Homo sapiens: one gene and its partner. The protein of the gene in region 1 purifies or fractionates together with the protein of each later gene. This does not show direct contact. Each region holds a gene or a part of one and is shown in the gene's direction. Other genes may lie near its edges.

Region 1 (7,208 bases):
AGTTCCCACCCAGTCGCCTTACTCCTCTGGCTGTATTCCGGGCCACTGCAGCACCCCTGGCCCTGCTCAAACCATTCCTGCCTTTGCAGGAGAAGTTGGGGGAGCTCGAGCTGGGTGCGTTTTGCATGTAAGAAAAGTTGCTGAGGCATGTCCCGGAGGCCCCCGACTGGAACACCTTGTTCCTGCATCTGTTTGGCGAGTCTGACGGTTGTTTCTGCCCCGCCCACCGGAGGCCAGGCTCCCAGGCTTCCTCCCTCTGCTCTCCTCTTCCTGTGCCTTCGTCCTTTCCTCCTTTGTCCTCAGCTTTCCCGCCTCCTCCTTTCAGAGCCCACCTTCGGCATTTTCCTGCCCTACAGCCCTGTGAGTGTGCACCGGGGCCAGCACCCCGTCCAGGGCCCCATGGGTGAGTGGGGTGGCTGCTGCTTTGCTGAGATACCAGTGGCAAGCCTTAGTCCTGTGATTCGGATGCACTAACCAAGTGGTACCAAGAAGCAGACTTGACGGCATTATGAAACTGTAGAGCGTGCGTGTGCATTTTTGTAATACATACCTAATTTTTAAAAATTCAGCGGCACACAAGCCCAGCCAGCAGCCATGTTGGTTGTCGGTTATGAGCTGGACTCCACTATCCTCTGTCTCCATGTCCTCGTGCAGAGGGGGCCCCTGTGCACCGGGTTCTTCTCCCTTGTAGGACGGCGGGACCCGGAGGCTGGAGAAGGCCAAGGTCTCGCTAAACGACTGCCTGGCGTGCAGCGGCTGCATCACCTCCGCAGAGACCGTGCTTATCACCCAGCAGAGCCACGAGGAGCTGAAGAAGGTTCTAGATGCTAACAAGGTAAGCAGTGGTCGGCCTGGTGACTCTGCTTTAACCTGAAATCCATCCCAGCAGCCGACAACGCGTTTTGCCAAGGGCAGCTCGTGTGGTGCCGACGTCCGTCGTGCGGGTGGCGCCTGCCTTTTTGAGGCTTGGAATCTTGGTGATTTGTCAGTGGGCTCCAGTGGTGAACGTGTCAGGCCCCAAACTTCAGGTTCTAAATATACATCAAAATGACACCCCTACTGGGCGCGGGGGCTCACGCCTGTCATACCAGCACTTTGGGAGGCTGAGCCGGGTGGATCACCTGAGGTCAGGAGTTCGAGACCACCGTGGCCAACATGGTGAAACCCCGTCTCTACTAAAAATACAAGAATTAGCCAGGTGTGGTGGCACATGCCTGTAATCCAAGCTACTAGAGAGGCTGAGGCAGGAGAATCGCTTGAACCCAGGAGACAGAGGTTGCAGTGAGCCGAGATTGCGCCATTACACACCAGCCTGGTGATAGAGTGAGACTCCATCAAAAAAAAACGATACCCTTGGCCAGGCACGGTGGTTCACGCCTGTAATCCCATCTACCCAGGAGGCTGAACCTGGGAGGCGGAGGTTGCATGCAGTGAGCTCCGATCGCACCACTGCACTCCAGCCTGGGCAACAGAGTGAGACTCTGTGTTAAAAAAAAAAAAAAGACTCTTGATGGAGCTGGCCTGCCCTCTCCACAGCTGACAGCATCTCACCGTGCGGCTCTGGCCACCAGGAATCAGCATAAGGCCAGCAGAGTAAGCAGCGTCTTCCCCTTGCTTTGCAGATGGCGGCACCCAGTCAGCAGAGGCTGGTTGTAGTTTCGGTCTCACCACAGTCTAGAGCATCGCTGGCTGCACGGTTTCAGCTGAATCCTACAGATACTGCCAGGAAATTAACCTCATTCTTTAAAAAAATAGGTAGGCTTTGAACCTGGGGTAACACTGCCGCTCCAAATCAAGGGGGCGTCTGAGTAAGCCCAGGCCCCTCGCGCCTCTGAGTCACTGACACGCTACCCAGCCCTGAACTTCAGCGCTACAGAAACTTTATTCCCTCTGTGACCTCAGCCTGAAGTTTTGATTTGACATTTGAGAGCAGGGCCTTCTCACAGAACACGTCTGCATTCTGACTGTGCACTTTCTCTAAGCTGGGGCTGACCAACTCCTTGTACTTTTTAGCTGATAATATTAAGGCACTCTCTCCGGGGCTCTGTTGGGTTCAGCCAAGGTCAGCTTCTGCTGACTTTGGTTATGTGCCTGGAGCTGGGCTTGGGGAGGATCTGGGTGTCTTGAGAGCCCCCAGCTAACTAGGCTCCAGTGCCTGGTGTCTCACTGGGAATGAAGGGGCTGGACCTCATGGTTACTGTGTGCCTTTCACAGGTAACCACCATGTCCAGTCCCTTCATTCCCAGTGAGGCAGGCCTGTGCGCCTTGTAACCAGCAGACTGCCTGTCATCCAGCTGTGTCCCAGGTCCCTCACACTGGAAACCTGGTGACACTGGCAGGTGCCCCATGGCTCCTGTCTGACCCATATCCAGTTGGTGCCTGAGCAGTGCTCTGGCACTGGGAGCCTGACCTGGTGTCCCAGGGAAAACCTGGCCTGGGGCAGCCCATGGTTCTCCAGATGGAAGGTGTGGATTTCGTCCCCACCAGAATAGGAAGCAAGTTCAAAGATTTTTACTTAGAGATGATGATGACGGGCAAGTGGGGCACAGCGAGTCCTCCGACCACGGGTTACGCGAGGGAGGAATGACAAGTCAGGCAGAGAGAGAGGGACCCACACGCGGGTGCCTCTGCTGGGTCCAGGGCACGATCAGGCAGGTTTACTGAGCAGTTCTAATGGCTGGGCTTGGAGCTGGCTGGCGTGTTCCAGGAGTCCTGCTGTGTGTGAGGGGTGGCCACTATGGTAGGTCTGCACAGTCAGGGTCCGAGGGGCCAGTCCAGCAGGCTGCGTCCAGCTGTGCCCTAGGGAGGGTCACCGGGAGCAGCGCACGTGGCAATTCCCTGGACCAGCCACGCTGAAGAGCTGGGAGGGTGGAGGACTGAGCTGCTGGGTGGCTGCCTCTGGGGTGGGAAACCAAGGCCTGGGTTCACAGGGGATGCCGAGGCAACGTGGCTTTAGGAGGTCCCCACAGTGGGGCTGGGGCTTTGGCGCAACGTGGCTTTAGGAGGTCCCCACGGTGGGGCCGGGGCTTTGGCACGGCAAGCAGGTGCGACACACGTGCCCTGGCAGCACCATGGTGGTCCACACGCCGGCGTGTGCTCGTGTGGGCGTCCCGCATGGGGTTAACCAGGCACCCACCTTCACCTTCCAGGGGTGCACTTCGTCTTCGACACCGCCTTCTCAAGGCACTTCAGCCTCCTGGAGAGCCAGCGAGAGTTTGTGCGGCGATTCCGAGGACAGGCCGACTGCAGACAGGCGCTGCCCCTGCTGGCCTCTGCCTGCCCAGGTGTGCTCATGGTGCGGGTGGTGGGAGAGTCAAGTTCAAGTGCAGTTGAAACGTGAGGTGATATGGACACAAATGACAAGGCGGGGGCATGGGGGGTGGAGACGCAAGCAGGTTTTGCGGGACGGGTTGGAAATGTTGGCACAAATGGCCTTTTCTGGAGAAGAGGCTGCCCTCCCGTGGGAGCCACGCGCAGTCACCTCAGGTCCCTAGGCGGTGTCGCCTGCACGCCGAGCTCCGCGTGGTGGTGGGGAGAACAGGAATGAGCACTCTTTAATGTCATCATGATCTCCTGTATGAGCGGGCCCGCCCCCAGAATGTCGTGCTGCTGCCTGTGGGTGCGGGGGCCGCCGTGCGCCCCCGCCAGCCCCGTGTGCCCCCTGTCACCTCAGGCTGGATCTGCTATGCCGAGAAGACTCACGGCAGCTTCATCCTCCCCCACATCAGCACCGCCCGGTCCCCGCAGCAGGTCATGGGCTCCCTGGTCAAGGACTTCTTCGCCCAGCAGCAGGTAACGGCGTTGGGCCAGCCCCAGACTCAGGCTGGGGAGCGGCCAGAAGTGACTTTGCTGGCCTCTTGCCATGAGGCTGCAGGAAACAGAGTCCTCGCTGTGCTGTGCGGCCTTCCCCAGCACACCTCCACCCTTGTTCCCTCCTGGTTCAGGCCCTTCCTCTTCTGCAGCAGAGGGCTTCGTTCTGATCCAGAGGTGCTCACTGCTCACCCAGAGGCAGCCAGGCCTGAGGCTGAGGGAGCAGGAGGCCCTGGGCAGTCCGGGCCTGGAGCCCACCCCTCCGGCCACCAGGTCCACGAGGATGCCCAGCACGACCCCCACCTGAGGCCCAGCGGGATAGAAGCCTGAAGACACTCAGCCAGCAGGGGGCGGGAGAGGGCGAGGGCGGCCCCGGTGGTGCCTGGGCCTCGAGCGCCCATGTCCCCTGCGGCACCTCTTGCCTGACTGCACGCGGATTTTCACCCGGGGCTGGAGCTGGTTGGTTCCCCCGTGACATCCGTTTCCCCGGCTGCTGTGCAGTGAGACGGCCCGAGCCGTGGGAAGGCCACTTCTCCTCCGCTGGACTTGGCTGTTAGGGAGCGCAGGCACACTGGGAATGGGTCAGTGTCATTTTCTGTCACAGCCAGGGCCCGTCCTGTCCAGGGACACATCCGCAGAGCCGGCAGGAGGCTTGCTGGGAAATGGAGTGAGGCTCACTGTCCCTCGGGGTCCGGCCTGGCTGCAGGATGGCTGAGTTCCAGGTCCCGTCTCAGCCACCTTACTGCTGGGATTGGGGAGACAAGTGTTTGTTTCTCCTTGTAGCACTTGACCCCTGACAAGATCTACCACGTCACAGTGATGCCCTGCTATGACAAAAAGCTGGAAGCCTCCAGACCCGACTTTTTCAACCAGGAGCACCAGACACGGGATGTGGACTGTGTCCTCACAACAGGTGCGGTCACGCCGTGCGGCCCTGAGCCCTCAAGCCTCCTGGTCTGATTCCTGAGCCCTGGGCACAGGTGGCGACTGCCCAGGATCCTGCCTGTGGGGGCCCTGGCTGGAGTGTGGGGGCTCGCATGCGTGCACGTACCTTCGTCTCTCCCCTTGGAGCCAGGTGGGCCCATTTGCAGCTGGCCTGTCTTGGGGACCTGCAGCCAGGTGGCGCTCAGTAATACCTCCTTGTTGGCTCTGAAATGAGTCTTTGGAGGTGGGCAGAGATTCTCGAATGCAGCCTCTTCAGCTCCCATGAGTCACCCCATTCCTGAGTCGAGCAGCCCCACAGTCTCCCAAATGTGAGGCAGAAAAGCAAACTGTGGCCGGGCATGGTGGCTCACGCCTGTAATCCCAGCACTTTGGGAGGCAGAGGTGGGTGGATCACGAGGTCAGGAGTTCAAGACCAGCCTGGCCGAGATGATGAAACCCCATGTCTACTAAAAATACGAAAATTAGCCGGGAGTAGTGGTGGTGCTCCTGTAATCCCAGCTACTCGGGAGGCTGAGGCAGGAGAGTCACTTGATCCCGGGGGGCAGAGGTCGTAGTGAGCCGAGATCGTACCATTGCACTCCAGCCTGGGCGGCAGAGTGAGACTCCGTCTCAAAAAAAAAAGAAAAGCAGACTGCCTAAGAGGATGGACAGATGGACACTGGGTGAGCAGAGTGGCCTGGCCGCTGGCACACCTCCCTGGGCAGGACCAGGCAGCCTCCAGAGGGGCTTCAGGAGTGACCGGGCCTGGCCTCCCCACCACGGGCTAGGGTGGACATTTGGGGCCTTCTGGGGCCAAAGTGCAGACTGCTGGGGATGCAGGTGGCTTGGATGTTCTCTGACTTTGTTGCTGGGATCTCCGCTAAAGAGTGTCTGCGCTGTGGCTTCTTTGCAGGAGAAGTTTTCAGGTTGCTGGAGGAAGAGGGCGTCTCCCTCCCCGACCTGGAACCAGCCCCTCTGGACAGCCTGTACGTATGTCTGCCACCAAGAACTGTTATTTTAGCTTCTAACGCTGCCTCTGAGGATAGCATCCCCCTGCTCTGGGCTTGCCTCCCCGCAGCCCATCTTGGCGTCCACAGAAGTGGCTGGATAGCCAGGCGCAGTAGCTCACGCCTGTCACCCCAGCACTTTGGGAGGCCAAGGTGGGCAGATCACCTGAGGTCAGGAGTTCGAGACCAGCTCGGCCAACATGGTGAAACCTCATCTCTACTAAAAATACAAAATTTAGCCAGACATGGTGGTAATCCATGCCAGGCCCTGTAATCCCAGCTACTTGGGAGGTTGAGGCATGAGAATTGCTTGAACCCAGGAGGCGGAGCTTGCAGTGAGCCAAGATCACGCCACTGCACTCCAGCCTGGGCGACAGAGCAAGACTCCGTCTCAAAAAAAAAAACAAGAAGTGGCTGGGCCCCTGTGATGGCTGGTGACACAGGAGCTGTTCCTCTGTGTCTGTGACTTGTCTCCCACCTGGAAATGCAAACGCTCATGTGTGAGGGACAGAGGCCCTGCTCGGGAGGTTGGCAGGCAGCAGCCCCAGCTGTGCTGAGGCCCCTCCCTCCTTGCCAGGTGCAGCGGTGCCTCTGCAGAGGAGCCCACCAGCCATCGGGGAGGGGGCTCGGGGGGCTACCTGGAGCACGTGTTCCGGCACGCGGCCCGAGAGCTCTTTGGAATCCATGTGGCTGAGGTTACCTACAAACCCCTGAGGTCAGTGGGATGGGCCAGATCTCTGGGCAGAGCGGCCACACAGCCCCCAGCCTTCCTCGGGCTGCTGCCTCCCCTGGGGTCCTCCCACAGAGGTGGGCTGGGTGGAGGGCAGCCTGCAGGGTTTGGAGGGGACCCTGGGGCCAGGCAGGGCCCTCCTGGCGGGCTCAGGGTGTGAAGGCACCTAAGCACTCCAGGCCTCAGTCGGCCCATTGTGGGGGATGGTGACCCTGAGCCCGAGAGGCCAGCATGGGCAAAGGTGATGGGTGCCTGGCGCAGGCACGCGACCACATCCCAGGAGGGAGGGCCAGGGCCTCACAGACATCCCTGGGGAGGGAGGCCTGTTTCACAGACAGCCCGAGGCTGGAGGTGAGGTCCCCTGCTGGACTCAAGGAAGTGAGCCTTCCACCCTCTCTCTCCGTTCTTGTCCTTCCCTCTGCCCAGGAGAGAGGGAGAGAGCCCTGGGAGGTACCCGGTCATCCCCTGAAGCCCAGCAGGCCTCCCCTTCCAGGCAGGCAGGAGCCTGGTGGGTGTGCCATGTAGACAAACCCCGCCTGTGCCCCCCAGGAACAAAGACTTCCAGGAGGTGACACTGGAGAAGGAGGGCCAGGTGCTGCTGCACTTCGCAATGGCGTACGGCTTCCGCAACATCCAGAACCTGGTGCAGAGGCTCAAACGAGGGCGCTGCCCCTACCACTACGTGGAGGTCATGGCCTGCCCCTCAGGTAGCTCCTGCAAGGGACAGGACACGAGGA
Region 2 (8,008 bases), on another chromosome or scaffold:
CCTCACAATTTGGGATGCTGAAGCTGATGGATCACTTAAGGCCAGGAGTTCGAGACCAGCCTGGCCAACATGGTAAAACCCCACATCTGCTAAAAATACAAAAATTACCAGGGCATGATCGGCACACACCTGTAGTTCTAGCTACTCAGGAGGCTGAGGCACAAGAGTTGCTTGAACCGGGGAGGCAGAGGTTGCAGTGAGCTGAGATCCCAGCAGTACACTGAAGTCTGGGTGACAGAGTAGTAACACTCTGTCTCAAGAAAAAAAAAAAAAAGGTAAACCAAGGCACAATAATATTTTAAAGGGCTTATTTGTGTAAACAGCAATTCATGAATCGGACAGCTCTAAACCGGAAGTGTTTCCAGGGCTCTGTTGGAGAAGCATAAGGGTCAAACTTGGAAGAGTGAATGCAGAAATAATGCAAAGAAAATAATTGATTACAGTTATAAAGTGGCTTTATTTGGTCTATCCTGTGGGAAAATCCCTAGTTATTTAATTGTAAGTCTGTTGACTGCTTCTGAATGGTTGAGCTTAAGTTTTGTTTTTCTTTAATACAGGCATTTACAAGAAATAGTTCAAGTTAAGTTTCACTTATGTTTGCAAATCAAGCAAGGTTAAGATCACTTAGGAGGACTGACTGGCTTTGTCTCTTCGGGGAGTCTTCAGCCCTGGTTTCCATTTTAATTTAGTTTAACAGGCGAATCCCTGATTAAAATTTTTGAACAAGTATTTGTAGAGGGCCTTTCTCTCACTTAGTTTTGACCATCCTGCTGCCTTAAGATCAAGCATAAACTTGGCTCCTGAACTCTACCACCACCCAGTGAGCATCTGCTGACCCTGCAGAGGGTGGCACAGCAGGTTCCATCACTGTGCATTTAACTCCCAGAGTAATGGCTGCAGTCCAGACCTCTCTACTATTCAGTAGCATATACAAAACTCCTATATTCAGGCTGGTCATGGTGGCTCACGCCTGTAATCCCAGCACCTTGGGAGGCTGAGGCAGGTGGATCACCTGAGGTCAGGAGTTCGAAACCAGCCTGGCCAACATGGCAAAACCCCGTCTCTACTAAAAATACAAAAATTAGTCAGGCATAGTGGCACACGCCTGTAATCCCGGCTGCTGGGGAGGCTGAGACAGGATAATTGCTTCAACCAAGGAGGTGGAGGTTGCAGTGAGCCAAGATCGCACCACTGCACTCCAGCCTGGGCAACAGAGCAAGACTCCATCTCAAAAAAAAAACAAAAAAAACAAAAACAAACAAACAAACAAACAAAAACCTCCTGTATTCAACTGCCTACTCAGCCCCTTCACTTGGAGACCTAATACTCGTCTCAAGCTTCCTATGTCCAAAACTGAATTCTCCTTCTTCCCTTCCAAACCTGCTCCTCCTACATTTTCCACAGATCAGTAACTGGCAGCTCCACTTTTCCAGTTGCTCAGCCCACAAATCTTGGTATCATTCTTAACTATCTCATATTCAATATTCAACAAATTTCACTGGTACTACCTTCTACATAAGTCTAGAATCTGATGTCCTCTCACCACCAGCACCCTTAGAAAGCCACATCATTTCTCAATTACCCTGTTAATTTCTCAAATAACTTCCTGACTGACACCTTGCTTCTATTCTTGCCTTTTAAAATTGAAGGCAGATTAGCCCAGGCGCAGTGGCTCATGCCTATAATAATCCCAGCACTTTGGGAGGCCAAAGTGGGTGGATCACCTGGGGTTGGGAGTTCGAAACCAGCTTGGCCAACATGGTGACACCCTCTCTACTAAAAGTACAAAAATTAGCTGGGTGTGGTGGCACGTGCCTGTAGTCCCAGCTACTTGAGAAGCTGAGGCACGAGAATCACTTGAACCCAGGAGGTGGAGGTTGCAGTGAGCCAGGATCGCACCACTGCACTCCAGCCTGGACGACAGAGTGAGACTTCGTCTCGAAAAATAAATGAATACAAATTTAAAAACTTGAAGGCAGATTAAACCAGCCTTCTGTTCGAAACTCTCCAATGGCTTCCTATCTCATTTGAAGTAAAAACCAAAGCCCTTATCAATGGTCTCTGGGCTCAACATGGTCTGTCTGGTGACCTGTCTGTGCTGTTTTTCTCTGAGCACTCCCTCACTCACTCTGCTCCAGCCTCACGGGGTGCCTGGCTGTCTCTACAAAACCCCTGGCATGTGCTCACCTCAATGCCTTAACACGTGCTCTTTTCTTTTCCAGAAAAGTATTTGGCCCACATTTCCACATGGCTTACTCCCTCCTCTCCTTCTTGGCTCAAAATGTAACTTTACAATGAGGCTTTTACTTGTCTCAGGTTGCATTCTCCAGCAGCAGATACGGTGATAGAGGTTGGCTCAGAGGGTGTTTATTAGGAATCAATGCCTGTGAAGGGAGGGGGAGGTACCAGGATTAGGCAGGAGAAGTCAGCTGCAGTACACGCCTTACAAAGCCTTGTCCAATCTAGGAGAGAGTTCTAGAGCAAGTGTTGCTCATCGGTCTGTCTTGATGGTCAGGCCTTTATCCTCCTATCTTGTTCAGTTACTGAATGTGGGCTTCCCTGTGAAGGGAACAACTGAGACCCAGTGGTTCTCAGCAGCTGGGGCAGTCCCTGAAGGAGCTGAAGGCTAGAGGCTCTCTGCTGACCACTGTTCTTCCCTGAAAGCAGATCTGTGCAGTGTATTCCTGAATCTATCACACCATCTATTTAAAATCGCAACATCCCCTAGAGTCCCTATCACCCTTCCCTGCTTTATTTTCTCCATAGCATTTAATAGCATTGAACATCTTCTAATATATTATATAATTTAGTTTACTATCTGTTTCCTTCACTGGGATGTAAGTTCTAACAGCAGAGGGATTTTTGTCTCTCTTGAGCACTGCTGCATTTAGAATGGCACCTGGCTCACAGCAGGCACTTGGGAGATGTTGGTTGATTAAACAAAGTTGTTCAGTAGCGTGTCTAGTCATTACACTGTACAGCCTCACAAAAACCATGTCTTATTAATCTCATCAGCAACAGCATATAGTAAGTGTGCGATATATGTCTGTTGAATATAGGAATAAATAAATTCATGAATGTTTGTTAATAACTTCATCATGAGAAAGTATTAGTACAATGGTGGCTCCTGCCCGTAATCCCAGCATTTTGGGAGGCTGAGGTGGGCAGATGATTTGAGGGCAGAAGTTTGAGACCAGCCTGGTCAACATGGTGAAACCCTGTCTCTAGTAAAAATACAAAATTAGCCAGGCATGGTGGTAGGTGCTTGTAATCCCAGCTACTCGGGAAGCTGAGACAGGTGAATCCCTTTAACCTGGGAGGCGGAGGTTGCCGTAAACCGAGATCGCACCACTGCACTCCAGCCTGGGTGACGGAGTGAGTTCGTCTCAAAAAACTAAAACAAAACAAAACAAAAACAAAAAGAAAGTTCTAGTAAATCACTGTACATAGAAGTACCATCTGATTCACATCCATAATTTAAAGTTTTTATTAGCTACCTTAAAAAAATAAGCAGGTCATATTAATTTTAATAGTATCTAACTCAATATATCCAAAATAGTATCATTTCAACATGTAATCATTGTAACAATTATTGATGAACTATATTACATCTTTTTTGTTTTGTGCTAAGTCTATAAAATCTTGTAGTATTTTGCACTTGTACTACATCTCAGTTTGGACAAGCCACATTTCAAGTGCTCTATAGTCATGTGGATAGTACGGTTCTAATGCAATTCTGCAATTCAGGTGTCAGAATAATATAGTGGGGCAGAAGTTTGGAGTCATTGACTTCCTGAGTCCAAATTTTGGCTCTTGAACTTACTGGTTGTCAATGACCTCTAGCCAAAAACCACCAGGAACAAATGGGGTTGATTGCTTGTTGGAGGGAGAAGACACACCATTGGGAATGGTGAGGTGTCTGGGTAAAGGGATGTTCGGACAGTTTTATTATAGGATTTGTGTTTGTGTTAGGTGACCTGGGAGAGCTTAAGGAAGAGAGGCTCTCCTGTGGACTGGATGTTGTCAGGAAATGCGTATAATTCTAAGGTTGCATATCTTAATAAATCTTATCTAAATGGAGGAAGACTAGATAGCGGTTAACATTATAATTAATAAAGAAATAAGAGTCACTCATATTAGCCAGGATAGGGGGATGTTTGGTAATTTCTGTGGCTTGTACATCGCTCATATTTTGGCCGTGTTTAGATGTGATTATGGAGTGGCCTCGTCTGATGTTTATGTTCCACAGGAAGCAAACACTTCCTAGCAACACCAAAGCTCAGCTGATAGTACCAGGCAGCTCCTGGAGATCAAGGGCTGCTTTTCTCCCTCTCATAGCTGTGCAACCTTAAGGTAGTGATCAAACTTCTCTGGTTGTTTTCTCATCTCTAAAATGGGAATACAAGAGCATCTATTTCATCTCTTAAAATTATCAGTATTAAATGAGATGCAAAGACACTGAGTTAATGCCTGGTATATGGTCACCACTCAGTGCTATCTATTGTAGTTCAAAGATTCTAAGATGCACTATATTTTTTCACATTTTAACATTTCTGAAAGTGTGTGCCTTTCAAACAATGGCTTCTTCAAATGGATGAAATGTAGTATTGTAATTTCTGAAATCTCTGGTTTGGGGGACAATTCCTTGTCCCCTCCAGGTGCTCAATTTATTCCTGGGTGAATGGCTTTACTTTTAAACCTTCCTTACTTTCCCCATTTCTCCGCAGGCGCCCCGTGGCATCCTCTCCCAGCCACAGACTTTCAGCTTGCGCGGCATCCCCAGGCAATACGGGCGGTGCGGCGGCAGCACTCGGGGGCTTACGGCGGCGCGGCGCCCAAGAGGCCCCAGCAGCCGAAGGGAAACCGGCGCGTCCCCCGCCCGCCCAGGCGTCAGCTGATGGGCTGCCTGCCGAGGAGGCCGCAGCAGTCGCCGCGCGAACATGGCGGCCGAAATCCACTCCAGGCCGCAGAGCAGCCGCCCGGTGCTGCTGAGCAAGATCGAGGGGCACCAGGACGCCGTCACGGCCGCGCTGCTCATCCCCAAGGAGGACGGCGTGATCACGGCCAGCGAGGACAGGTAGGGCCCGGGCGCAGCCGGGGCGGCCCGAACTCCGCGACGACGGGGTGTGGGGGCGGTGGGGTCCGCGGCCCCGGTCCTTCCTGCGTGAGGGGGCTCCCCCGGCAGCACGGCCCCACCCCCACTCTGCGCCCCTTAGCTCCGCCGGGTTCCCGGTTCCCTCCCGCCGGTCCTCCAGCCTCGACTTGCACCTTTCCAGCCTGGGACCCCGGTCTCGCCGCGCCCCTCCAGCCCGGATCCCCTGTCCCACCGCGCCCCTCCAGCCCGGGAACTCCGTCTCACCGCGCCGCCCAAGCCCGGGACCCTTGTTCCAACGTGTCTTTCCAGCCCAGGACCCCTGTTCCAGTGCGCCCTACCGCGCCCCTCCCAGCCCACCTCGCCCCTCCTGCTCAGGACCCCTGTTCCAATGCTCCCCAACGCGCCCCTCCAGTCCGGGACCCTTGTCCCACTGCGCCCGTCCATCCCGGGAGCTCCGTCCCACCGCGCCCCTCTAGCCCGGATCTTCTGTCCCACTGCGCCCCTCCAGCCCGGGAACTCTGTCCCACCGCGCCACTCAAGCCCGGGACCCCGGTTCCAGTGCGCCCCAACGCACCTCTCCAGCCCAGGACCTCTGTCTCACCGCGCCCCTCCAGCGCGGGAACTCTGTCTCACCGCGCTGCTCAAGCCGGGGACCCCTGTTCCAGTGCGCACCAACGCGCCCCTCCCAGCCCACCGCGCTCCTCCAACCAGGGAACCCCGACCTGCGGTGTCGCACTAGCCTGGGACCTTCGTCCCGGTCTCTCTCCCTGGCGGGGTTTAGCCTGGTACTCGGAAGGTGTTTCTTGGCCCTCCCGGGTCAGTTCCAAATCGTCTCCTCTGGAAGCGTGGAGGACCGGCGGCTGGTCACTGCGGACCCTGGTGCCCGGGGCTTGCTTCTTTGCGAGGAACTCCAGCCGCCTTCGCTCTCTTCCTCCCCCTGTACTCAGGGATTTCACGCCACGCCAGGCCTCTAGATCAGTTATTTTTGCCACGGCTGCTAGAATCACCTGAACTCTTATTTACTAAATAGGTTTTTGTGAAAGTGACTCATTTTTAAAAATATTTGGATGCATTTATTTTAAAAGGAAATCTTATTTATTAGGAAAACTAACATTACTCACCAGACAGAGTAAACTAATAACTAAAACATGTTAATTGGCATGCACACAGAGTCCTCTCTTGCACTGTGACATCTTGCATTGGACGCCCACCATGCTTTTGGGAAACACTGATTGGGTCCAGTTTTCTCATTTCTCCTAAGAGGAAGCCGAGGCTGGTGGAGGTGTAGCTTGCTGCTAAGTTACAGAGATACTGGTGAAGCCGGAAATGCAATCCAGAACTCCCACCAGCTCTGGGCCTGAGTGATTGGATTGGAACAGTATTTATGATTCGACTTTAAACTTTAGCGTCTTTCAAATCCTAAAGGTTTACAATGTCAGTAGCTTTCCGGTGGGAATTTGAAGGAAATGACTGATGTTTATTGAATGAAACTGTGTTTCCTTGATGCAATGAGCCGTCTTAAATAGGGATAGTCCACAAGTCCAAAAGCTTTCTGGAGGATGGAAGGTACTGCTATTCTCTTAAAGCTGAAGGCGTGGTCTCTAGCCTTTTGTAATTATACCTTTTGAAGTGACATTGACCCTATCCTGAATGGGAAGAAAAAGCCTGAAGCCCCCAACTCCTGTTGGTCCTTTGGATTTTGCTTTTGAGTGAGCTTGTGCCTTTTTCCTCAATTAGATAATGAGCTGATTGTGAGCAGGCAGTGGCCTCTCCCTGCTGGTTCACCTGTAGCTGACTTCCAACAAGGAGGGGAGTGATTGGCAGGACCTGGCTGTGGGTCTGTAAAGCAGAAAGGAGTGAGAGAGATCGAGTGCATGAGACCTGGGGAGAAGGTGGGGACCTGAAAAAGGCAAGGACAGAATAATGACTTTTTTTTTTTTTTTTTAAGATGGAGGCTTGCTCTGTCACCCAGGCTGGATGGAGTGCAGTGGCATCATCTTGGCTCACTGCAACCTCCGCCTCCCAGGTTCAAGCGATTCTCCTGCCTCAACCTCCTGAGTAGCTGGGACTATAGGCGCCTGCCACCACGCCCAGCTAATTTTTCTATTTTTAGTAGAGACAGGGTTTCACCATGTTGGTCAGGATGGTCTCGATCTCCTGACCTCGTGATCCACCCGCCTTGGCCTCCCGAAGTGTTGGGATTACAAGCATGATCCACTGGTGTCCGGCCAGAATAATGACTCTTGCATGATGTGAACGTAGATGCAGACAACACTCTTTAAAAGTTAGCCTTTGGGCCGGGCGCGGTGGCTCACGCCTGTAATCCCAGCACTTTGGGAGGCCGAGGCGGGTGGATCATGAGGTCAGGAGATCGAGACCATCCTGGCTAACAAGGTGAAACCCCGTCTCTACTAAAAATACAAAAAATTAGCCGGGCGCGGTGGCGGGCGCCTGTAGTCCCAGCTACTGGGGAGGCTGAGGCAGGAGAATGGCGTGAACCCGGGAAGCGGAGCTTGCAGTGAGCCGAGATTGCGCCACTGCAGTCCGCAGTCCGGCCTGGGCGACAGAGCGAGACTCCGTCTCAAAAAAAAAAAAAAAAAAAGTTAGCCTTTGGCCAGGCGCAGTGGCTCATGCCTGTAATCCCAGCACTTTGGGAGGCCGAGGCGGGTGGATAACAAGGTCAGGAGGTCGAGACCATCCTGGCTAACACGGCGAAACCCAGTCTCTACTAAAAATTCAAAAATTAGCCAGGTGTGGTGGCAGGCGCCTGTAGTCCCAGCTACTCGGGAAGCTGAGGCAGGAGAATGGCGTGAACCTGGGAGGCAGAGCTTGCAGTGAGCCAAGATTGTGCCACTGCACTCCAGCCTGGGCGATAGAGCCAGACTCCGTATCAAAAAAAAAAAAAAGTTAGCA

The links. Proteins that work in one complex are often made in the same cells at the same time.
Region 2: the proteins of CIAO3 (region 1) and WDFY1 purify together in Homo sapiens (affinity purification with mass spectrometry; 2 studies listed by BioGRID and IntAct, with this or other methods). This does not show direct contact.

The regions. Positions count from the first base shown.
Region 1 is NC_000016.10:730,813-738,020, reverse strand, and holds part of CIAO3 (cytosolic iron-sulfur assembly component 3), read left to right. Parts: intron 1-691; coding exon 692-835; intron 836-1,622; coding exon 1,623-1,755; intron 1,756-3,149; coding exon 3,150-3,284; intron 3,285-3,673; coding exon 3,674-3,792; intron 3,793-4,593; coding exon 4,594-4,723; intron 4,724-5,647; coding exon 5,648-5,720; intron 5,721-6,318; coding exon 6,319-6,456; intron 6,457-7,020; coding exon 7,021-7,178; intron 7,179-7,208.
Region 2 is NC_000002.12:223,942,217-223,950,224, reverse strand, and holds the start of WDFY1 (WD repeat and FYVE domain-containing protein 1), read left to right. Parts: upstream 1-4,889; 5' UTR 4,890-4,940; coding exon 4,941-5,077; intron 5,078-5,669; exon of another isoform or gene 5,670-5,746; intron 5,747-5,817; exon of another isoform or gene 5,818-7,001; intron 7,002-8,008. UniProt on the Homo sapiens protein: Positively regulates TLR3- and TLR4-mediated signaling pathways by bridging the interaction between TLR3 or TLR4 and TICAM1.